7 linked regions of the Homo sapiens genome follow. The protein of the gene in region 1 purifies or fractionates together with the protein of each later gene. This does not show direct contact. Each region holds a gene or a part of one and is shown in the gene's direction. Other genes may lie near its edges. The genes, in order: SLC6A12, PTPRF, ATP2C1, DHRS7B, DGKE, GALNT1 and AIG1.

What was found.
Region 2: the proteins of SLC6A12 (region 1) and PTPRF purify together in Homo sapiens (affinity purification with mass spectrometry; one large-scale study listed by BioGRID and IntAct). This does not show direct contact.
Region 3: the proteins of SLC6A12 (region 1) and ATP2C1 purify together in Homo sapiens (affinity purification with mass spectrometry; one large-scale study listed by BioGRID and IntAct). This does not show direct contact.
Region 4: the proteins of SLC6A12 (region 1) and DHRS7B purify together in Homo sapiens (affinity purification with mass spectrometry; one large-scale study listed by BioGRID and IntAct). This does not show direct contact.
Region 5: the proteins of SLC6A12 (region 1) and DGKE purify together in Homo sapiens (affinity purification with mass spectrometry; one large-scale study listed by BioGRID and IntAct). This does not show direct contact.
Region 6: the proteins of SLC6A12 (region 1) and GALNT1 purify together in Homo sapiens (affinity purification with mass spectrometry; one large-scale study listed by BioGRID and IntAct). This does not show direct contact.
Region 7: the proteins of SLC6A12 (region 1) and AIG1 purify together in Homo sapiens (affinity purification with mass spectrometry; one large-scale study listed by BioGRID and IntAct). This does not show direct contact.

Annotation. Positions count from the first base shown.
Region 1 is NC_000012.12:200,658-204,157, reverse strand, and holds part of SLC6A12 (sodium- and chloride-dependent betaine transporter), read left to right. Parts: exon of another isoform or gene 1-140; intron 141-406; exon of another isoform or gene 407-720; intron 721-1,277; coding exon 1,278-1,418; intron 1,419-2,308; coding exon 2,309-2,396; intron 2,397-3,374; coding exon 3,375-3,500. UniProt on the Homo sapiens protein: Transporter that mediates cellular uptake of betaine and GABA in a sodium- and chloride-dependent process.
Region 2 is NC_000001.11:43,600,383-43,603,882, forward strand, and holds part of PTPRF (receptor-type tyrosine-protein phosphatase F isoform 1 precursor), read left to right. Parts: intron 1-1,688; coding exon 1,689-1,715; intron 1,716-3,033; coding exon 3,034-3,151; intron 3,152-3,228; coding exon 3,229-3,500. UniProt on the Homo sapiens protein: Possible cell adhesion receptor. It possesses an intrinsic protein tyrosine phosphatase activity (PTPase) and dephosphorylates EPHA2 regulating its activity.
Region 3 is NC_000003.12:130,995,084-130,998,583, forward strand, and holds part of ATP2C1 (calcium-transporting ATPase type 2C member 1), read left to right. Parts: intron 1-959; coding exon 960-1,028; intron 1,029-1,596; coding exon 1,597-1,713; intron 1,714-2,522; coding exon 2,523-2,670; intron 2,671-3,210; coding exon 3,211-3,306; intron 3,307-3,500. UniProt on the Homo sapiens protein: ATP-driven pump that supplies the Golgi apparatus with Ca(2+) and Mn(2+) ions, both essential cofactors for processing and trafficking of newly synthesized proteins in the secretory pathway.
Region 4 is NC_000017.11:21,185,964-21,188,941, forward strand, and holds part of DHRS7B (dehydrogenase/reductase SDR family member 7B), read left to right. Parts: intron 1-2,747; coding exon 2,748-2,900; intron 2,901-2,978.
Region 5 is NC_000017.11:56,837,151-56,840,650, forward strand, and holds part of DGKE (diacylglycerol kinase epsilon), read left to right. Parts: exon of another isoform or gene 1-1,470; intron 1,471-3,500. UniProt on the Homo sapiens protein: Membrane-bound diacylglycerol kinase that converts diacylglycerol/DAG into phosphatidic acid/phosphatidate/PA and regulates the respective levels of these two bioactive lipids.
Region 6 is NC_000018.10:35,693,240-35,696,739, forward strand, and holds part of GALNT1 (polypeptide N-acetylgalactosaminyltransferase 1), read left to right. Parts: intron 1-2,976; exon of another isoform or gene 2,977-3,100; intron 3,101-3,500. UniProt on the Homo sapiens protein: Catalyzes the initial reaction in O-linked oligosaccharide biosynthesis, the transfer of an N-acetyl-D-galactosamine residue to a serine or threonine residue on the protein receptor.
Region 7 is NC_000006.12:143,133,889-143,137,388, forward strand, and holds part of AIG1 (androgen-induced gene 1 protein), read left to right. Parts: intron 1-1,317; exon of another isoform or gene 1,318-1,444; intron 1,445-2,946; coding exon 2,947-3,102; intron 3,103-3,500. UniProt on the Homo sapiens protein: Hydrolyzes bioactive fatty-acid esters of hydroxy-fatty acids (FAHFAs), but not other major classes of lipids. Show a preference for FAHFAs with branching distal from the carboxylate head group of the lipids.

The DNA of each region.
Region 1 (3,500 bases):
GCAGTCGTGTAAATGTCCCGCTCAGCTGGGTCCTATGCGTAGGTCCAAGCACGCTCACGGACAGCACATGCAGGGCTGGCCTCTCTGGAACACACAGACGGCTTATGCGGGTGCCACGGTCAGGGTGAGCAAACGGAGCACTGGAATGCGAGAGGAGAGAGGTCGTGGCTCTTTCCTTCTTTTCCAAGTCAAAGAGGCGGCAGGGCCTGGCATCTCAGCGGGAAGCGCGTGCACCGCGCTGTGCTGGTGGGAGGTCCGGGCTGCCCTCCCCGCCCTCTGCCGGCCTCTCCGCCCGCCGCACTCCCCTCTCCCGGAGCTGCCGTACTGGCTCGAGGCGCGCCCCCGCGCGCCCCCGCGCTCCCCCGCGAGCCCCTTCTCCACCCAGCGCCGCCCCGGCCCCTCTCCCAGACAGCCCCACCAGAACGCCGGCCCCCGGCTCGGCCATCCCGGGTCCGCTTAGTTCACCGGGCTGACCCGGGGCTGCCGGACGGGCCGGACGGCCGCGAGCACAGCGCGTTCCGCCGCGGCACAGGGGCCGCTTGTTTGTGTGTTTTTTGGGTGTCTGTGTGCGCGCTCTCAACGCCCCGCCCGCTCCCCGCGGACCCTCTGCCGTCTGCGGGTCCCTCCCGCGCAGCGCCACGCCCACCCCCGCGGCGGACGCCCGGGCCGCCCCAACGCCGCTGCGCGGTGGAGACCGCGGTGGAACCCGTCCTTGCCAGGGTGGGCTCGCCGGGCCCCAAAGGAGAGGTTTTGTTCATAGTCAGCATTGATTTTTCAGCCAGGCTGTTCTGAAAGGTCCACAGTCCTTCGTTAAGTAGTGAGCACTTCGGGAGGCTGAGGCAGGAGGATCGCCTGAGCCCGGGAGTTCGAGACCAGCCTGGGCAGCATAGCGAGACCCTCCCCTTCTCCCGTCTCTACAAAAAAAAAGTTAAAATTAGCCGGGTCTGTCTGTGGTCCCAGCTACTCCGGAGGCTGAGGTGGGAGGATCGCTTGAACCCGGGAAGTGGAGGTTCCAGTGAGCCGAGACTGTGCCACTGCACTCCAGCCTGGACAACAGAACAAGACTCCATCTCAAAAAAAAAAAAAAAAAAAAAAAAAGAAAAGAAAAAAGAAAGAAAAATATGCTATGAATGGCTTCTCATGCCACTGGATAAACCCCAATGGTGCTCTTTGTGTAGCACCCAATACCCTTGTAACCTCAACTGGCAGCTTCTATGTGACTTTTTTGCTAACATTGATCTCTCTTGTCCCTCCCCATCTCTCCCCCACTCTGGAAGGCATTGGTCTGGCATCTGTGGTCATCGAGTCATATTTGAATGTCTACTACATCATCATCCTTGCCTGGGCTCTCTTCTACCTGTTCAGCTCCTTCACTTCTGAGCTGCCCTGGACGACCTGCAACAACTTTTGGAACACAGGTATCCATCATTTCAGCCCCTGGGATGTTGCCTGTTAGGGGCTGGGCTGCGGTGGCTGGTGAATCCAAGCAACGACGGGGAGTATAAGTGTAGCAGAACCTGCCTGGCAGCCAAGCCACGTGGGCTCCTGGGCAGCTCTGCTCCTTGGCTCCTCTGAGGCCCTCAGGCCAGCCACTCGGACGAGTCAGTGTGGTTGGGAGAACCCAGAGGGACTGTATTAAATGACTGCAAGGGTTATTGCCACTTACTCATTTGTGCGCTTAACAAGCACTTACTGGACACCTACTGTGTGTTAAACACGGTGCCAAGGGCTGGAGATTGGTACGAGGCTGAGCAAAAGCAGCAGGGACCCAGCCTTCACTGTGTTTACAGTCTGGTGGTAAGAACAGACAAATAAACACAACCACTACAAATTGTGATAGGTGAACGAAACTGCAGAAACCATAGAACAAGGGGAGGGAGAAGTGTCATCTGAGGCCTGAAGTGAGAGAGAGCCCAGCATGGGGGCAGCATTCCAAGCAGGGGGAAGAGCAGGTGCAGGGCCGCAGTCCCTTGGCCTGCCAAGTGGAGAGACAGGAAGTCAGAACGGGCAAGCGGGGAGAGTGCATTCCGTACCAGCCGCCCATGAGGGGACTGAGTAGATCTGAAGTCTGGATACTGTCTGAGGTTGGCAGGGCAGCCAGGTGAGCAGGCAGATTCACAGGGAACAAGAGCAGGGGGAGGAAGAGCTGGCCCTATGAGCCTCCTGATGCCCTGGAGAGTGGGGGCTCCAAAAGAAGCTCTTGGGGCTAGGAGTGGTGAGGACCACTAGGCTGCAAGGCCAGAGGGCCAGGGGGACTAGGGTATAAGAGCATCTCTCTCCATCTTGTCCCTAACCTTGTCCCCAACAGAGCATTGCACGGACTTTCTGAACCACTCAGGAGCCGGCACAGTGACCCCATTTGAGAATTTTACCTCACCTGTCATGGAATTCTGGGAGTAGGTGCTGGGCCCATTTGCCACATATGAAGAGGAAATTTGGATGTCTGAGCTGTGCAAGTCTGAATGTCTGGGGTGCAAGTTTAAGATTCTGTGTGTGCTTTCCAGCACTTCCTCCCCCGCCCCACTCCAACCCCACACATCACTGAGGCAGGGGAGAACGCTCTCACATCTACCCACACGGGTCCACGGAGACTCACATTTATCCGTCATGTCCACCTTCAGCCCCACATCCCTACCTCCATGCGTGTGTCTGCCCACACATGTCCAGTGGGGTGCTGGACAGAGTCTTCACAGCTTTAGGGGAGCTGAGTGTGCATGTCTCTTCCCACTGCCATGCTCGGTGGTGTCATGCCAGTAGCTTGAAATTGCCCAAGGCGGGAGTGCTCACATCAAGACATGGGCACACCCTCCACTCACACACTCACCCTCTCACCTGACAACGTACCCCTTCACATTACGTGTGCCCACACTCGTCCACCTGCATTCCCACGCAAGACTGCCTGTACTCTCTCACACTGAGCTAACCCCCACGTAGGCACCAATGCCCTCACACCTGAATGCCCTCACAGTACTGGACCCTCACACCCATGCATGCAGTTCCAGCACCCCATCACATGTTTAGAAACTAACACACTCAGCCCCTGCACGGGATACCCATGCACTTGCCCATCAACCTGCATGTATAAATATCTACTCTCTAAACGCTCATTTATACATTCCTCATCTCTCTCTCTCTCCATCTTTCTGTACGAGAAAAAAAATCTGGATGAGTTAGAAAGATAAAGATATGCATAGGATGATGGTAGTAGTTTGGTCTACGGGAACATGGCCTGACTGTGGGGGAGGTGGGGAGTGGGGGAAGCCCTGGAATATGAGATCCGTGGGGTCAGCTCTGAGAATCAGGAGACTTGCTGACAGACGCAAACTGTCCCCTTTAGCCTTTCCCCTCATTACTTATTTTTCCCAATCCTCCAGGAGACGAGTTCTGGGCATCACCTCGGGCATCCATGACCTGGGCTCCCTGCGCTGGGAGCTGGCCCTGTGCCTCCTGCTCGCCTGGGTCATCTGCTATTTCTGCATCTGGAAGGGGGTCAAGTCCAC
Region 2 (3,500 bases), on another chromosome or scaffold:
AGTCTCAGACATCCCATCATGGGGGCGGTAACTCGAGTCTGGGCTCCCGGAGGACACTGAAGATGGAGGCCTGCTCCGTAGCCCTCTCAGGACTGGGTCATTCTGTTCCTCGCCAGTGGGAGAGCAGTGGGGCCTGGTCCCGAGCGTGGCCACAGGGCCCAGCTGTCCCTGTGCTTCTGTCAAGGGCGGCACATTCTGTCCTTCACGCAACAGCACCATCCCCTCAGCTCATCCCCCATCATGCCTGAAGGAACTATGTGGTGCAGGTTCCCACCCCCAGCCTGGAAGTGTGGAGCCAGACCTGTCTCCTTTTACGTCAGATTCCATCTCCCTGCCTCCCTTTTTCCCCTCTCGTGGCCTGCATTTCTCTCTCCTTCTTGGAGTCTCTGTTTTTGTCTTGCTCTTTCTCTTCTCTCTCCTCCTTCCTTCCCTCCTCCCCCTGCCATTCCTCTGACCCCTTTCCTTCATCTCCATTTGGTTTCATCCTCCGTCCTTCCCTTCTTTCTTGCTCTGCCTCTAGCGCAGGACAGGGTCCATGTGATGTGAGAACCTCCACGCCAAGGCTTGGTTGGGACAGCCCAGGTCTCCCCGCAGGCAAGGAGACTGGAAGGGACGTGGGCCCAGCCACACCCTATAAAGTGGCCATGCACTAAGGACCTGTCCAGAGTCTCCTCTCATATTCTGTTCCATGCTTCTTGCAAGGACTTTCCAACAGAGTGTCCCAGGACAGGAGGAACTTAGGCCACCCAGCATGGAGGCCAGTGGACAGAGGCCAGACCGGCACTGTGGGGGTGCTTGGGCTGGAGGACCCCAGGTACTTCCGGCTTGGAGACATCCTGGACCATCTCCCTGTGATGTTTCATGGGGCCTCAGAATGGAGACCTCACAGTCCCTCCACCTGTCCATCTAGAATATCTACATGCACCAAAGGCCCGCAACACTGCCAGCCCCGAAACATTCCTTCCTACCTTAATCCTCAGACACCCCGAGGAAGGAACGGGTATAGGTGATTTCCCGTGCCTGTGGGCTACAGCCCAGGCTCTGAGCTTGGCACTCACAGCCTTCATAGTCTTGCTGACTGGCTTGCCCTTGGGCCCACCCTGGCCATGTGCCCTGTTCACCCCCAACTCTTACTGTTGTGGGACACTTCTCATGCCTGGGGTGATTGTGTAATGTATGATCACATCTGGGATGCTTTGGCGGGTGGAAGGAGACACTGAATAGTCAATTCCATGGCAACAAGCACAGGCCAGGACTGTCCGAGGCAAACCAGGGCATATGGGCACCCCATTCACCCCTCAGTGTCTTCCTTTCCCTTGGCCTGAGCTGTTGAACCCACCCTTCTTGTCTGGCAGCCTCTCCCTCCCAGCAAGCCCAAAATTGTCAGAGCATCTGTAGCTGCTTTGTGTTCTTAGGGCCTTCTGTCAGCGGGTCCTCTCCCTGCAGGCTGCCTGCCCTCCCTGTCTCCCTACCCTCCTCAGCCCTGGCACACCCAGTTGGTGCTCAGTGAGGCAGGGATTCAAATCTTTGAACCGGGAGTTGTTCTGGGGTGCTACCCCCATGGGTACTTTGAGGCCCAAAAGCCCTCCCTCTGTCCTCCCTGGGCAAGGTCCCTTCCAGGCCAGGCCCTCTCCAGGTCAGAGTCCTTCACCATCCTGTCTCCCTTTCTCTCCCTCTCCCGCGGTCAGTGGCGGCCAGAGGAGTCCGAGGACTATGTAAGTAACAGGTGTGCGAACGCGGACAAGACATGGGTCAAGCTGGGCTCGTGGGACGCTCCTCCTCTCCCTCCTTTCCTGCTAGCCTGCACTGCCAAGATCCACAGGGCTCTAGCCACATCAGGAGAAAATTGGCGTTTAGACACAAGCACTGAGCTGAGCAGCGATTGGCATTTCCTCTAATCCTTACTTCTTGCCTGTCGAGCAGCAATTTGAGGCCAGTGTTCATGATCGACCAGGGCCTGGCCCCTGCCCCGGCCAGACAGGGATGGAGTTAAATCCAATCCTGATCGTTAGGCCTTATTGATCCCTGGAGTGAAAAATCACCTGCTTTAGGGCCCAGGCTGGGAGGGCTGTCTGGAGAGTCGGATTCTGGCATTGGTGCATTCTGGAGCCCCAGCCCTGGGAGACCCTCCAGCTGTGGCAGGAGGGGTCCATGAGGGGGTGGTGGCAGCTGCAGGGGCCCCACTCAAGGCCAGAGCTGGAGGGATACCAGGGTTGATGACGGCTCTGTTCCCACTGCACGGTGGTCCCTGCCCTGCTTCCCACTCTTCTCTCTGTGTGGTGTGGCTTGACCTCCCATGGTGTTTCTCCGCATGTCCAGAGATGATGCCTTTGCTGCAGATGGGTATATGGGCAGGGTCTGCCAAGCGGGGAGGACATTGCCCTGGCTGCTGTCTCAGGCATCACTGAGAACAGATGTGGAAGCCAGTTCCCCAGGTGTGGAGGTTTTCTTATTCTCCTAGCCCCTCCCCTGCCTTTCTCAAGAGGTATTGCAGGGTATAGACATTCACAGAGTTAGTGGCCTATATGGGGGCAGCGGAGTCCTGACTGGGTCCTATAGGATGGCACCTTAGCCCATCCTGCCACCTTGCTCTGTCTGTGCATGCATGCACTGGTGTCCACAGGCAGCCTTACGCCTGCTTATGCAGGAGCTGTAGGCTGTGTGCGTGTGGCTGCCAAGAGCCACGCAAGGTGCTGGGTGCGTGCGAGGCTGTGCCCTGTTGATATCCTCAGTCTCCGTTCACAGCACAGTGGAGTGAGGGAAACAGTCTGGCCCTTTGTTCTTGTCTGAAAAGAATAATGAGCTGTCTGCCCCAGGCGTGCGGCTCCTGGGATGGGCGGGGTCCTCCCAGGCCTGCATCCTACCTGCCTGCTTCCTCTCCAGCAGAGGCCACCATTGTATAGCCCCACCTTCCACAACCCCTGGCCTTGTGTGCCCCGGGGCTCCCCTCAGGCTAGGGTCCTGAGGTCCCTGACAAGGTCTGGCCTCTCCCTGCATTCTTGTGATGGGAACGAACCCCTCCTCCTCCCTCAGGAAACCACTATCAGCGGCCTGACCCCGGAGACCACCTACTCCGTTACTGTTGCTGCCTATACCACCAAGGGGGATGGTGCCCGCAGCAAGCCCAAAATTGTCACTACAACAGGTGCAGGTGAGTGAGGGGTCAGGACGGACCTGAGGGTGGGGCAGCAGGAGGGCAGCGCCAGAGCCCAGCCCGTGGTCCTTCAGTCCCAGGCCGGCCCACCATGATGATCAGCACCACGGCCATGAACACTGCGCTGCTCCAGTGGCACCCACCCAAGGAACTGCCTGGCGAGCTGCTGGGCTACCGGCTGCAGTACTGCCGGGCCGACGAGGCGCGGCCCAACACCATAGATTTCGGCAAGGATGACCAGCACTTCACAGTCACCGGCCTGCACAAGGGGACCACCTACATCTTCCGGCTTGCTGCCAAGAACCGGGCTGGCTTGGGTGAGGAGTTCGAGAAGGAGATCAGGACC
Region 3 (3,500 bases), on another chromosome or scaffold:
GTACCACTAAGAAAAATGAGCTTAGAGGAAGGTGAAGAAGATAATCATGGCTGGGCAGGGTACCTCATGCCTGTAATGCCAGCACTTTGGGAGGCTGAGGTGGATGGATCACTTGAGCCCAGGAGTTCGAAACCAGCCTAGGCAACATGTCAAAACCCATCTCTCCAAACAATACAAAAAAAATAGCTGGGAGTGGTGATGTGAGCCTGTGGTCTCAGCTACTCTAGAGGCTGAGCTGGAGGATTGCTTGAGCCAAGAAGGTCGAGGCTGCAGGTAAGTCAAGGTTGTGCCACTGCGCTCCAGCCTGGGAAGCAGGGCAAGACCCTGTCTCAAAAAAAAAAAAAAAAGATAATCATTTTATGTATTATGAATGTGAAGTATTTTCTCTTGTGTGAAGAGACAATGCATGATTTTAATGTTGAAGTATCTTCTTCAGAATAAGAATTTTAATATTGTGACAAATTAGTTCAGGTAGAGCTTAGGCTTGACTTTAATTCTTTGCTAAAATAAATGTTTCCATATTGATACATGTGTTGTATTAGTTGGAATTTTATTTTATTTATTTGTTTGTTTGTTTGAGTCAGTCTCACTTTGTTGCCAAGGCTGGAGTGCAGTGGTGTGATCTTGGCTCACTGCAACCTCCGCCTCCCGGGTTTAAGCGATTCTCCTGCCTCAGCCTCCCGAGTAGCTGGGATTACAGGCATGCGCCACCACACCCGGCTAATTTTTGTATTTTTAGTAGAGACGGAGTTTCGCTGCACCATGGTGGCCAGGCTGGTCCGAACTCGTGACCCCAGGTGATCTGCCAGTTTCGGCCTCCCAGTGTGCTGGGATTACAGGCATGAGCCACAGTGCCCGGTTGGAAATTTATTTTCAAAATTAGCTCTACAGTGTTTTAGTATAGATACATTTTTGTATGATAATATTTTCTCACTTCATCTTTATTTTTTAAATTTCAGGTCTGCAATCGAAGAGGGTAAAGGGATTTATAATAACATTAAAAATTTCGTTAGATTCCAGCTGAGCACGTAAGTTTGCAAGAAATTTGTCACCATGGGTCTTCTGGATAAATTATATGAAAAGTAGAACTTAAGCAGAATGCCTAGAAACTTCTCTGCCTTATATTTGTGAGCATTGTTCATATGTCAGTTTTCCAAAAAGAAAATTTATTGTATTCTGAAATTTTAAATGGCATGATAAATAGGTTGTAAATGTAACAGTTAGATGTCTGTATCATCAAAATGTATAAATCTTTGTGATTTATTTAATAGCTCACATCTCATTGTTTCCTCTTGGTATCTTTTTCCAAAAGTAGAAGGGGTATTGTGTAGTCAAAGAACAGTTACCAAAATATTGTTGAAACTATCATGCAGATGTAAAAATTCTTTATTTGTTCCTGTTGTCTAAACATCTTGAAAATCCTTTGTTAAAATACTCTTAGCTTTAAAATGTCCACGTGACTGAAGAATAGTTTACTTGAAACAGTCTTCCTTTAAAAGCATAGTAGTAAGAGATTTTTAAATGCTAAAAAAGTGGTATCATAGAATCAACAGATTTACTCTACTGATATTTTTAAATGACTCTCTTTTTCAACAGGAGTATAGCAGCATTAACTTTAATCTCATTGGCTACATTAATGAACTTTCCTAATCCTCTCAATGCCATGCAGATTTTGTGGATCAATATTATTATGGATGGACCCCCAGCTCAGAGGTACGAGTTTTTTAATTGCATGAGCTGGAAAGACAAGGAATGTGTACTACCCTGATAATTAAGTTTTAAAACTTGATTTATGGACAGTGTTGGAAAACTTTGCAGCAAATGTTTTAACATTTATGTTATAAATTGTGTGATGTGTGTATTTTATTAATTCTTTTTGAGTGTGCATGCAGTGTAGATCTGAGCCTTTCCACTGTTAGATGCCTAGCCTAAGGTTGAGAATAGATCAGGAATAGGTGCTATCCCTGTCCTCAGGAAGTAAGTAAGCCTTTTATTTCTAAGAAATGGGTATAATGGAGAAATTTCTGGGTTCAGTTTTATTATCTAGGTTCTACTGTCAGTTTTAGAGACTTTGGGAAAGTATTAGAGGACCTGAGTGTCATAACTTTTTTAAAAAATTTAATAATAATGGGGTAGTTGAGTGATAGATGTCATTTGGCCACTCCAGCAAATCATCCCAGTTAAAACCTCTTTATATGAAAGATATTTCAAAATTCAGTCGGTAGGTCATGTATTTCACACCGTATTTGAAATAGGTAAACTTACATGTAAATGAATTGGATGGTTTTTTGAAAGTTGATTATCTATCCCCTATCAAATTGTGCCAAACAAATAAAGAGGAGAGAAAAAGTGACAAAATCAGTGGTTATTTTTGCGTAATCAGCCAGCGTTTTATGATGCAACATTTTGTTTCTATAAGAAAGCATTTAGTTTGCCGAATAATTGAGGTTAGTGAGGTTGTGAAAGTAACAAATCCAGACCTTAAAACTTGAAAGTAATTTATTTTTCTGTTTGTTTTTAAGCCTTGGAGTAGAACCAGTGGATAAAGATGTCATTCGTAAACCTCCTCGCAACTGGAAAGACAGCATTTTGACTAAAAACTTGATACTTAAAATACTTGTTTCATCAATAATCATTGTTTGTGGGACTTTGTTTGTCTTCTGGCGTGAGGTATATTCACTGGCCAAGCTGCTATATTAACATGAATTCTGTATATCTGATAGGATTCTTAGTTATTTTGATGGGTTACCCAGAAGGCTGGGAAGTTAAGGGAGCTCTTTTAGTGAAAAATATAAGAACATTTTAAAAGAGTTTGATTTCCATCTTTATGGATAAATAAAATTATTGATTCATGTATTAGAATAAATCTGCAGAGAAGTATCAGTTACAATAAAAATACATGAAAATTTAGAGAGAAGTTGGAAAATCTGAGTCTTAAAATCATAGAGCCACTTTATTATTTTTAAATAATAACAGTATTTTAATATCTAATACATAGTTCATGAGAAGTTTTTTTTTTACTTTTTATTATGTAGATTACAGCTATTCACTAGGTGATTTATAGGAAATTTAGGTAGCTTTTATGTTTCATGTGTTAGGCTAAAGTTATTTCTTCCTAATGGAAAGAAAATGTTTATATTTTTTAAAAAGCAGCGATTTATCCATTAAATTCAGCCACTGAAAAGTAATTTTGTTATTGCCTCTTGACAGCTACGAGACAATGTGATTACACCTCGAGACACAACAATGACCTTCACATGCTTTGTGTTTTTTGACATGTTCAATGCACTAAGTTCCAGATCCCAGGTATGTTTAGGTGAACTTAGTTGATTGACTTGATTGACTCACTTGAGTAGAGTGCTTTCTAATAAGTAGGCAAAGATTATGGGTTTTTAGCTTTGCTTAATTTTGTAGCCACAGATTGCAGCCCCAGACACAGCCTTCTTATAAACATGTGCCATTGGTCACAATGAGGATGGGGCATTTGTGGGAGGTAAGCT
Region 4 (2,978 bases), on another chromosome or scaffold:
AGGCATGAGCCACCGCGCCCAGCTGGAGTTCTTTATACTAAATTATTTTCAAGTTTTACTTTGATTTATAATAATACCACTGATTTTTGTTGTCTGGCCTGCTGACTGCAGTAAGGCATACAATGGTTGGTCTCCGTATTCAGTTTTATAATGACCAGGCTGAATATGGAGTGCCTCTTGGGCAAGTTGGTTAACTCAGATAAGTAGTGGCCTTCTCACCTATAAAATGAGGAGAACGGCATTTTCTCTGTCACACTGCTAAAGTAAAGACCAAGTCACGTGGTCCACAGTGTCCTTAGTACTGGGCCTCACACTGGCAGGGTAAGTGATGTGGCCAGCGGCGAGGTCAGCACAGCCTGGCTGAGAACTCACAGCCTGAGAGCTCTGGGGAGACCCAGCTGTCAGAGTGTAGCCTTCTGTTTTGGGGACTTACATGATAACCCACTCTTCCCTGTCCCCAAGCCTGGGCTGTACTCTTGGAATCATGGCTGATAGGAGCAGTCCTCTCCATCCACCCACAGCCAACTCATCCAGCCCCCAGCAACTGTGCCCCAAACCAATGGAGCAGGCCCAGCAAGGCACTGCAGCAAGCTCAGACACTGCTGAACTGCCTCATGTGACTTGCTGCGACACTTCCTTTCTTTCTGTCTTCCTGTTTCCTTAGCTGACGGATGCCCCTTCTTTCCTAAGGCTAAAACATTTACAATTCTGAATTGGAGGAAACTGATTTACTGTGGAGACGCTGGTGTGTTTCCCAGGAATGTCATTATAGGGTCACTGTGTTCCCATTCAGAGCACCTTTTACCGGGTTGTGAAGCCCTTGCTCGAGAGCAGGCACAGCTCTGTTTCTTGCAGGTGGAGTAAGCTCTATAGCTCTTCTAGATGAAAAGCCACTGCCTGGACATTTGTCAAAATGAGACATAAGAAGGCAGGTTTGGATTTTTTACACCCATGAAGGCCCACTGATGGGGCCAATTCTGTCACTTGGTAACTCACTGGGGAGGACTAGGCAGCCACAGCTACATGGCAGGTCTGCAGGGCCAGCATGGGAGCTGTCCAACCTGCCACCAGGTGAAGAAAGCTACTTGCAGGAACAGTAGAATAGGTAAGAGTTCATTTCTGTATTAAAAGATATATATATATATATATAAAATATATAAAATGTGTAAAATCACATGAATATACGTAGAATATATTTTTAAAAAATCACTGGGCATGGCTGCTTACTCCTGTAATCCCACCAGCACTTTGGGAGGGTGAAGTGGGAGGATTGCTTGAGGCCAGGAAGTCGAGGCTGCAAGGAGCTATGATCCTATGATCATAGCTCTACTCCAGCCTGGGTAACAGAGAAGATGCCTTCTCTAAAAAAACAAAACAGAAGGCCGGGTGCGGTGGCTCACGCCTGTAATCCCAGCACTCTGGGAGGCTGAGGTCGGTGCATCACGAGGTCAGTAGATCCAGACCATCCTGGCTAACATAGTGAAACCCCGTCTCTACTAAAAAATACAAAAAAGTAGCCGGGCGTGGTGGCGGGTGCCTGTAGTCCCAGCTACTCGGGAGGCTGAGGGAGAAGAACGGTGTGAACCCGGGAGGCGGAGTTTGCAGTGAGCCAAGATCGTGCCACTGCACTCCAGCACTCCCGCCTGGGTGGCAGAGCGAGACTCTGTCTCAAAAAAAAAAAAAAAAAGGAAAAAAAAGAAAACCAAAATAGAATTAAACAAAAATTCTGGGAAACTGTTAGCACTGATTATCTCTAGGAATGGAATTTGGAAGACAGGAGGACTTTCTTTTTTTGTACTTTCTGTCCTTTAATGTACTATTTGAATGTTTTACCCAGTAGTCATTCAGTTTTTTTTGTTTTTAACTTTTATTTATTTATTTATTTATTTATTTATTTATTTTTGAGATGGAGTCTCGCTCTGTCGCCCAGGCTGGAGTGCAGTGGCGCGATCTCCGCTCACTGCAAGCTCCACCTCCTGGGTTCACACCATTCTCCTGCCTCAGCCTCCCGTGTAGCTGGGACTACAGGCACCCGCCACCAAGCCTGGCTAATTTTTTTTGTATATTTAGTAGAGACGGGGTTTCATCGTGTTAGCTAGGATGGTCTCGATCTCCTGACCTCGTGATCCGCTCACCTTGGCCTCCCAAAGTGCTGGGATTACAGGTGTGAGCCACCGCGCCCAGCTTAACTTTTAACTTGGAATAACTTCAGACTTAAAGTTGCAGGAACAGCACAAATTACTCCCATGCACCCTTCATGCAGATTCCCTGTTAACCTTTTACCTTATTTCCTTTATCTTATTCTCTCTCTCTGTGTATATGCATATATACCGTTTATAATATATATAAAACTATATGTGTATATAATTTATAATTTTTTTCCTGAACCATTTGAAAGGAAACTGGAGACATGATGCTCATTTATTCCTATTTCAGTTTGTTTCCTAAGAACAAGGGCACAGTACACTTCTCAAAGTCAGGAAATGAACATTGTTATAATACTGTAATCTTAAATAATAAAACCAGGTTTTAAAGCTGGGCACAGTGGCCCACGCTTGCAGTCCCAGCTGAGGCAGGAGGATCACTTGAGCTCAGGAGCTGGAGTCCAGCCTAAGCAACATAGCAAGACGATCACAAATAAAACCAGGTTTTCAAAACAGAGAGCGTGAATGGTAGTGAATAGTTGGGCACCAGGCCATGCCCACCCCAGCGCACTCAGTCACCTGCCTCTCCGTCCACATGTGTAGATGCAGCCTCCAAGCACGCAACCCAGGCTTTCTTTGACTGTCTGCGTGCCGAGATGGAACAGTATGAAATTGAGGTGACCGTCATCAGCCCCGGCTACATCCACACCAACCTCTCTGTAAATGCCATCACCGCGGATGGATCTAGGTATGGAGGTGAGGCCCGGTTTCTCTTTTCTCCTATGAAAATCTGTCGGTCAGCCACAGTGAGACATGCTGCTCTTACTTCAGTGA
Region 5 (3,500 bases), on another chromosome or scaffold:
CAGAATTTGGAACATAAAAAGTTTCTCTGAAATTCAAATTCAACTAGGCATTGCCGTTTTTTTGTTTTTTTTTTCTGGCAACCCTAGCCCAACCCCAGACCTACTAAATCAGAAACTTGGGCTGGACATCAGCAGTCTTGGTTTTAACAGGCCCTACAGGTCCTTCTAAAGATGGAGAACCACTGCTATATTTACATATCTTTAAAAACATGCACCTCCGTCTCTTAATTTTGTATCCTCCCATTGAGCACACTGAATCTGTGTGATAATAAATCTTCTTTTCTTCATTAGTGCATTTTTACAGAGTAACCCCTTACCCCATGATAGAAATTGTCTCTGTGTAATTTAGGAGATGTTTATTATTCCCAAGAGAAGAGACCACAGTGTCCTGAAGTTGTACATATTCTACAGTGTTCTGAACTGATTTATGTTGGCCAATAATTGTATACAGGATTACAGTCTCCTGTGACCTTCTGTAGGAATGAGATATTTTGGAAGGAGAAACAAAATAAATAGCTACTTAGAACCTTTAAACACAGACCAGACAGTCCTCTGGATTTTATCTAGCCCTGAGGAGAGCTCCTTCCCTGTCTGCATCTCATTCTTAGGGAAGTGAGTGAACTCTGCAGACAAGTTACATTTCAAAGGACACTAATGAGAGATGATGACTGAGTTTAAAGCCTGCAGAATAAGTGAGAAAGGCCCTTTAATTTATACTCATTCGATCATTATACTTATTGAGCATCTATTTTTGTTCTAGACACTGCTAGAGTCTACTTTGTCTGTAGATTTTTTCTTTTTGTGTGCTCCTGTTTCTACCCCCAACCACTACATCTTCTTTTTCTTCTTCTTATCTCTCCTCTGACTAAAATAGGGAATTAGGTTATATTTTTACATATTCAATATATTTATTAAATGAACCTTTGTTTCTTGTAGTGTTCTATCTCATTAAGAGAAAAAGAACTTAAAGTGCTTTTTAATTTATTGGACTTTTTATTCATTACATCTACCCCACGCCTCACACACAATTACTGTGATTAGTAAAACAAAGCTGCTGACTCTCAGAAGGCAGTTAGATTGGCCTCAGTGTAACTAGTCTCAGCTTTGATCATAAATTTTGTTTCTATATTCTATTGGTGTGTGTTTATTCATTTCATTAATTATCTGAAACAGTGAAAGATACCAAATCATCTTCTAGAGCAGAGGTGGGCAAACTTACTGTAAAGAGCCAAAAGAATTTTCGGCTTTCCCAACCATTTCGTCTGTCATAATTACTTAACTCTGCCATAGTTGCAGTGCAAAACCAGCCATGGACAATACATAAATGAATGAGCTTACCTGTGTTCCAGTAAAACTTCATTCACAAAATCAGATGGCAGACATATTTGCAGTTTGCAGAACCCTGTTCTAGTGAATCTTATAAATGACCATCTCAACTTTATGTATAATTCAGCTGCCTCCTTCAGCACACTAAAAAAGAGAGCTATTGTGACCAGGTAATTTTTTAGAGAAAACAAGCCTTGTTAAACCTTTTTTTTTTCTATAAATACTACTGCACAAGAACGGCATATAAATTCATGAGGCATTCCATATTTTCATATGAAGGAACTTTCTAGAGTAATGTTCTATATCTTGATAAGGGTTTTAGTTACGTATGTTCATTTATCAAAACTCAGGAAGTATATACGTACATTTCATTGTATGTAAATTTTACATGAAAAGGAAAAAACATCATGAATTCTAGGTAGTGATAAGCCTATTTGCTGATGTATTCAGGAAGTATTCTGATGTCTTCAGTTTACTTGGAAATGTACTAAAAATAAGATGAATTAATGGATAGAAATGTGACAAAGCAATTACAGTAAGATGTTAATGGTAGAATGTAGGTGGTAGGCATACCTGTAAAAAATATTTTTAAGTAAAATATTTTAAAAAGCAAGTAAACTATTCTTGCTTTTAGAATATATTTGCTAAAATATTGAAGGGTGAGATCTCATACTGTCTGCAGTTTACTTTCAAATGATCAAAAAAATATGAATTTATATGGAAAGAGAATATTGTGGGAGAAAATGTCATTAAGAATCAGCGTGAAGGGTGGGCTTAGGGTATTCATTTTGCTATCCTTTTGACTTCTCTGAAAGTTTGGAATTTTTCAAAATAAAAAGAAAAAAGATGATAAGCTGTTACCCAATGACATGATGCTAAAGCTGAAATACCAAGACATTTTAGTAATGTCTTATCTTCCCAGTGAGTTTGAAATCTAGGTTGTTAAATACCAATTACAACATAGGTAAAGACAATAGGATTCAGGTTTGAATATGGTATTTCTAAAGAAGAATGTAATACTGAGTAATTAGTAAGCATTTTATTTTATTTTGTTTTTTGAGACAGGGTCTTACTCTATATTGCCTAGGCTGGAAGACGGTGGCAAGATTATGGCTTACTGCAGCCTTAGCCTCCCAGGTTCAAGCAATCCTCCCACCTCAGCCTTCCAAGTAGCTGGGACTACAGACATGCACCACCATGCCTGATATTTTTTTTTTCTTTTTTGTAGAGATAGGAGTATCACCATATTGCCCAGGCTGGTCTCAAATTCCTGGGCTCAAGCAATCCTCGCATCTTGGCCTCCCAAAGTGCTGGGATTGCAGGCGTAAGCCACCATGCCTGGCCCTAGTAAGCATTTTAGCTGTACCTTTATAGAGCAAAGGCTCATAATAGCTATTATCTTGGTTAAAATAATCTTTTCTGGGCTGAGCGCAGTGGCTCATGCCTGTAATCCCAGCACTTTGGGAGGCCAAGGCGGGCAGAGTTCGAGACCAGCCTGACCAATATGGAGAAACCCCATCTCTACTAAAAGTACAAAATTAGCCGAGTGTGGTGGCGCATGCCTGTAATCCCAGCTACTCGGGAGGCTGAGGCAGGAGAATTGCTTGAACCCAGGAGGCGGAGGTTGCTGTGAGCCGAGATCGCGCCATTGCACTCCAGTCTGGGCAACAAGAGCGAAACTCCATCTCAAAAAATAATAGTAATAATAATAATCTTTTCTGAAATTTATGAGAATTTAATAAATGATAAGTGTTCTGTCACAAATTATTGGGGGTAGAAAAGATGGTTTTATGAATCGTGTTAGGACAAGTGCTCTTGGGGGAGGGGAGAAGGTTAACTCTTCATAATACGCCAGATTTATTATGGGTAGATTAATGCAGTAGTTTGTTTTGTTGTTGTTGTTGTTGTTGTTGTTTTTTGAGACAGTCTCACTCTGTCGCTCAGGTTGCAGTGCAGTGACATGATCTCGGCTCACTGCTACCTCTACCTCCCAGGCTCAAGTGATTCACCCGCCTCAGCCTCCCGAGTAGCTGGGATTACAGGCATGCACCACCACACCTGGCCAATTATTTTTTATATTTTCAGGAGAGACAGGGTTTCACCATGTTACTCAGGCTGGTCTCAAACTTCTGACCTCAGGTGATCCGCCCGCCTGGCCTCCCAAATCCTGGGAT
Region 6 (3,500 bases), on another chromosome or scaffold:
AAAGAGTATTCTGGGCACAGGGAAGAACAAGTATAAAGGTTTCTAAGATGACAATGTACTTAGCGCGTTCCAGAAACAGCAGGGAGACCAGTTGTCTGGAATAGAGTGAACAAGGTGGAGAGTAGTAGAAGATAAGGTCAAAGACAAAGTGAGGGTCAAATCATATAAAGCTTTTAGGTTATAGTGAGAACTTTGCATTTTGCATTTTATTCTGAATCAAATGGAAGCTATCGAAAGATACCAGCAAACTTCCACTAGAAAAGGATCACATTGTATGCTATGTGGAGAAAAACTATATGGAAACAGGAGTAGAGCTGGTGTATTGTTGAAGAGAGTAAAGGATTATGTCTGGTTTCTATCAAGCTTGAGACACTGACTGTAAAGTTGCCATTACTGAGATGGGAAAACCTACAGGAAGAGCAGATGCTCAAGGGAATCAACAGTAGTTTGGGACACATCAAATTTGAGATCCAAGTGAAGATATGAATAGGTCTTTACATTTAAGAATATTCACTTTGGGGGAGAGGTTGTGATAGAGATGTTAACTTAGGTTGTCAGCATATAGGATGGTTTTTAAAGCCACAAAACTGTATGAGGTCACCTGAGGAGGAGAAAATGTTAAGTATGAGAGAGAAGACCGAGGACAATGCCAGAGGGAATGCCACAGTTTAGAAATCATGGAGATGAGAAGGAATCAGCAAAAAAGATTGAGAAGGAGTAGGCAGTGAAATAGGAGAACCTAGAGAGTGGTGTCGCCAAGACTAAGGGAAAGACGTGTTTCAGGAAAGAGGAAGTGATCAGCTGTATCGAATACTGCAGAGAAATTGAGGAAGATGAGTACTTAGAATTGGTTATTGCATTTGGCTAGGGACATGTTATCAGTAGCCTATCTCACAGTGTTGAGAGAGTTCCCCATGGATGTTGTTAAAAACTCTGTTTTGAAGAGAGAATGGAAGAAGCAACATAGATGAATGTGTACAAGTCTTGCAAGGAATTTTCTTGTAAAAGAGAGAAGATAAATAGGTGGTAGCTGGAGGAGAATATGGGCTTAAAGGGGTTTTTATTTCTTTATTAAGATAAAACTGTGCTGATATGAGCAACCCAAAAGAGAAAATTTAAAGATGCAAAAGAAAGAGCCAACTTAACACCCATTAGAATGGCCACTATCAAAAAAACAGAGAATGACACATGTTGGCAAGGATACTGAAAAATTGGAACCCTTGTGCATTGTTGGTGTGAATGTAAAATGGTACAACTGCTATTTAAAAATAGTATGGAGGTTTCTCAAAAAATGCTCAAAAAAGAGAACTACGATATTATCCAGCAATTCCACCTCAGGGTATGTATCCAAAGGAAATGAACGCAGGGTCTGAAGAGTTACTTTTACTTACATGTTTATAACAGCACTATTCACAATAGCCAAGAAGTAGAAGCACTCCACGTGTCCGTTCATTCTGGCCCAGCTAGCAATGCTTAGGCATTGTCCAAAATTGGGTCAGTTCAAAGTAAAAAACTCCTCCTTCTTGGTTCTAAAGACAAGCTACAGAGTGACTGCTATAAATCGTGATACAACGTACAATGGAATATTTTTCAGTCTTAAAAAGGAAGGAAATTCTGATACATGCTACAACATGGATGAACCTTGAGGACCTTATGTTAAGCATAATACGACAGTCACCAAAAGAGAAATGCTGTATGATTCTCCTTATATAAGGCAGCTAGAATAGTCAAACTCATAGAAACAGAAAGTAGAATGGTGGTTACCAGGGCTGAGGGAAGGGCCTAAAGAAGAGTTACTTCATGGGCATAGAGTTTCACATTTGCAAGATGAAAAAGTTCTGGAGATTTGTTTCACAACAGCCTGAATATACTTAACACTACTAAACTGTACACTTGAAAACAGTTTAGATGGTAAATTTTATGTTATGTGTTTCTGCACCAGAATAAAAAGAAAGAAGGGATCTGTTGTTATGGGTGTCATGTATTTGGGTGGATAGGAGGTGAAATCTGTACACAAGTAGAGGGTGTTGGGTGGGGGTGGGAAGAAGAGAGGTCATCTCTTATCATGGGGAGGAAGGTAGAGGAATGGGAACAAGTGCAGGGCAGCTGTAGGTTTGGAGGTGGAAACTGGCAGTTTGTGGTGGAAGTGTGAGGACCTTCTCTTCTGGTGGCTTGTTTCCTCAGTTGAACACAAGATTATGGGCTGAGAGTGAAGAAGGTGTTGGTGAGGGGGAATTGGGGAAAGAGAAAAGGATGTAAAATAGAAATGTAAGATAAGGGAAAGCAAGTAGATCACTGAAGGAAGCCAGATGGTGGAGAGTTGGTGAAGCCATCTGGCCTGGTGTTTTCTTCAGTGCCAGGGCAGGCACAGACTTACGCATTTATCCTAACAGTTACTAAGGCTACTTCAGGATTGACTTGAGCTCCCTACCTCTGAACCTTGTTGTGATTTAAGGAATTTGTTTTCAAACAAGTGAGGGCTACATTGAGTTTCTTGAGCCTTTCATTCTCACTGATGCCTCATTAATGGGAATGTGTTTTCCTTTGCTGTGACCTCGTACTGGTCAAAGAAGGCCCAGGGTGAGTGGTGCGCCAGGGAAAGATTTCTAGCAGTCACTCTGCAGCTTGTCTTTAGAACCAAAAATGAGGAGTTTTTTGTTTTTGTTTTGTTTTTTTTGAGCTGACCCAATTTTGGACAATGCCTAGGCATTGTTAGCTGGGCCAGAGTTCGGGCGTGTGACAAAGAAACACTTGTCTGCTCCATGGTAGATGACTGCCAAGGCAAGCTTGCGTCTTACCTGCCTCTTGCCAGCTGGCTTCTGGGCAAGTCGCAGCGTTTACCCTCTGTGGCCTGCTTGTTATCGCCTTATTAACTTAACAGCTGGCCTTAAGCCTTGTACGCCCTTAATACCAGGCCACATCCTACAGGTTAAAAGTGTCATTTCTAGATTGGAGGTCATTCTTAAGAGTACCCACCATAGTGCAGCCCAGGGATCTTATGCTTCTGATCACAGCTTCACCCATGTGAGCCTTCCTTTGCTAGCAACAGTAATTTAGCCTTTCATAGATCTCTTCTCATGCTTCAAGGGTCCAGGGAAACCTGAAATCATAGGATTTTTCAGCAGAAAGGGAAATCAGAAAATGTAAATATGACTAGGGTAATAGATATAATTTAGGGCATCTGGCTTCAGCTAACGCTGACGTTCGTAGTTCCTGTAGGACCTGAACAAATGTGTTTCATTGTGGTATCTGATAGTTGTTAACTCAGGAGCTGAGTATTCTAAACAACAAAAAGTAAACAATCTAGACCTTTACTGGTTTAGTCAGTTTTAGGGGCTGACCAATTGCTTTTCCAGGCAGATCTAATAATCCTAACATTTACTGAGCATGTACTTTATGTCAAGCACAAATCTGAATGCTTGATGAATATTAAAGCACAACACTATAGGATTGTGCTGTTATTTCCACTTCACAGATAAGTAAACTGAGACACAAATAAA
Region 7 (3,500 bases), on another chromosome or scaffold:
TTTATCAGTACCAAGGCAATATTCTACTTCCTCTGCCTATAAACAAAAATCCCACAGAAATTTTACATATAATGCAGTAACTAGGCTTTTTGAGCTTACCAAACCCTATTTTTTAGTCAATCTTTAAAACTAAGGGATATTGAATTAGAAGGGAAGGATTTGAAAGAGGCTAGCCAACTATATTTCAAAAGAATAAAAACCACTCTCTTTAAACTTTTAAGTTATTTGAAAATATTTTACACCAGTGAAATATAGAGAGAATAATACAATCAATTTCAGTATGCCAAATAACCAACTTAAGAAATAAAATATTATTTGTACAGTTGAAGCCCTGTGCAGATAATATTTCCTCCAATCTTATCCTTCTCTCTCTAGAGGTACCTTAATGCAATGTTATTAATTCCCATGCATTTCTTCATGTATTACTTCATATCCCTGCATCCTTAAATTTATCTTTGCATTTTTTTTTGAAATTGATTTTAATTGTCAGAATTCTTTCCTGGTTTCCTTTTTTTTTTTTTTTTTGGTTTAACATTTTGTTGTGAAAATAAAATGTTTATATTGGTTTAGATTTCCATTGTATGAATATAACACCATTATTTATCCAGTCAACTATTAAGAAACATAGTTATTTCAACTTTTTTGAAGCAATGAACACTCAAATTAACCTTTGGTAGATATGACTAGTACACATATATGAGAGTTTCTGCAGGAAATGCCCTTTATAATTATATCACGAAATAAATAGAGTATATGCATCTTTAAGTTACTATAGATGGTCCACAACTCAGAATTTTTGACTTATTATATTTCGACTTTATGCTGGTGTGAAAGTGATCGCATTCAATAGAAACCATACTTTGAGTACTCATGAAGCCATTCTGTTTTTCATGTTCAGCACAATATTTAATAAGTTACATGATATTTTCAACATTTTATCATAAAACAGGCTTTGTGTTAGATGATTTCTCCCAACTGCAGGCTAATGTGTGTGTTCTGAGCACATTTTAGATAGGCTAAGCTAAGCTATGCTATTCTATAGGTCGGGTGTATTAAATGCATTTCCAACTTAAGATATTTTCAGTTTACTATGAGTTTATAGGGACGTAGCTGCATCATAAGTTGAGGAGCATCTGTAGATATTGTCAGTTGTTTTTCAAAGCGGTTGTCCAGATTTGCATTCCTACCATAAGCTTTCTGGTTGTTCTACATCTTTGTAACACTTGGTATTGTAAGAATTAAATTGTAAATAATTACACTGGTGAGAAATGCTACCTCATTGTGGTCTTAGTTTGCATTTCCCTGGTTGTTAGTTACCTTTTTATGTTTACTAGCCAGATTAGCTAGTAATGAAGAATAATGAAGATTATTCTCCTCTGGTAGGGTCACTCCAGTTTAATCAAACTCCATTAGGGCCAACATAGAGATTCAAACATCTAAAGTCCTAGGATATGAAAAATAGAAAGATATGAATAGGAATATATGAAAAATAGAAAATAGAACATTTTTCTAAGTATGAAATTATTCCCTGAGTCATTTAAGTTATTTCTAGTTATCAAAACATGACTCTTGCCAACACTTTTATTGTGTCGTTCTCAATTGTGGCAGTCTTAGCTTCTTTTACTCTGGCTTTTCTGGCTGCAGAAAGAATGACAGTAAACCTTAAGTCACTGAAGCTAAAGACAGGCTACGTTATGAGGAAACAGAACATTACTCTGCCTAAGACTGACTAATAATAGTAAGATTTGATGAACTCCAAAAAGCCTAGGTTAACAATTTCTGTGTTCTAGTGCTATGCTAAGTGATGGAACTAAATACTTTTTAGGATCCTTCTTCCCTTGTGAGGACCCTATCCACAGAGCTTTCACAGACTCTTTCTACTGCCAATGAGGAAATTTACCAAAAAAGGTCCTTGCTATCTTTTCTAAAGAGGCAATGAGTAAAATTGTGTCTTTTACAAAGATATCATCTGTAAACTATTTTCAGTAGGAAAAAAGCCAGAAAAATTTTCCTGAATCTATCCTTGGTGCTAATTGGGTATGACTTTGTGTGCAGGGGATACATTTTCTGCCCTTTCCATAATTTGAATGATCATCTATCTAGCTGCATTACAGTATGCTGCCTGCAGTGTTCTCCTTTGCAATAGTCCAAGTAAATAAAACATAGCTGATCTAAATGCTTCCATTCATAATTGATTTGAGGAATGTATAACCTGTAGTTTTTTTGGGGGGGCGGTTAGAGAAATTGTATGGGTATCTCTGTTTATATTACTTTGGAAATATTTTATTTCATAAATACTAAAAACCTGAGTAGAAGGTCATTTAGTTCAAGTTTGACAACAGAAACTTGTTTCATATCAGCCTTAATTATTACATTCAGTCGATTTTTTTATGACTCAAGGACCCACTTCCTACCACTTCCTTTGATAGAAAAAATATCTAAATGTAAGAGATGAAAGCATAGGAAAGTTTTTCACATTTAGACTGAATTGTCTTGTTATTCAGACAGTCCTCACCCTTTTGTTTTCACTTCTTAGATATTTGTTAAAACTCACTAGTTATATTGACTAGTAGAAACCATAGATGTGATTTAGACATGACATAGAAGAAACCATGACAAACCATAGACATGATGCTTTAAAATAATGGCCCTGCTGGTTTGATCGTTGATACTTCTTTCTGATGGGCCCTATTTAGATGTGTGTGTGCATGCATGTTTTGCACTTGTCCCGAGGTGAGTGAAAATGGAAGTGGTGTTTTAAAGATGAACTTTCTGTATAAAAGCAAGTTGTAAATGTCTGTTCTCTATTTCTAGGAGCAGCTCTTTAAAATATGCTTCTGATCCTTTCTTATTAGATGTCATGTTGTACACCAGCAGCTCATTTGCTGTTCCACAGCTTGGGTCTCCAGATCTTAATGACTCATACCGGCTGTTGTCCCCCTACAGGTTATCCAGGCTGTCTTTTTTGGCATCTGTGTGCTGACTGATCTTTCCAGTCTTCTGACTCGAGGAAGTGGGAACCAGGAGCAAGAGAGGCAGCTCAAGAAGCTCATCTCTCTCCGGGACTGGATGTTAGCTGTGTTGGCCTTTCCTGTTGGGGTTGTGAGTATGATGGAGGATGCATTTAGCCACAAAAGAAACTTGGCTCTTATTTCAGACTTCTAAGAGAAAAAAAAAGAGTTCATTATAAGAGGTTTCTGTATTATTAGTTTGCTGGAGCTGTCAGTACCACAGATGCGGTGGCTTAAACAACAAACATTTATTTTCTCGTAGTTCTGGAGGCTGAAGTCTGAGATGCAGTTGTCCACAGGGTTCGTTTCTTCTGAGGCCTCTCTCCCCTTGGCTTGCAGACAGCGCCTTCTGACTGTGTCTTCACACACTCATCCCTCTGTGCCTGTCTTTGCCTAAACTTCCTATTTTTATAAGGTATAGCAGTCATATTAGATTAGGGCCCCCTAATGACCTCATTCAACCATATATAATCACCTCTTGAGAAACCC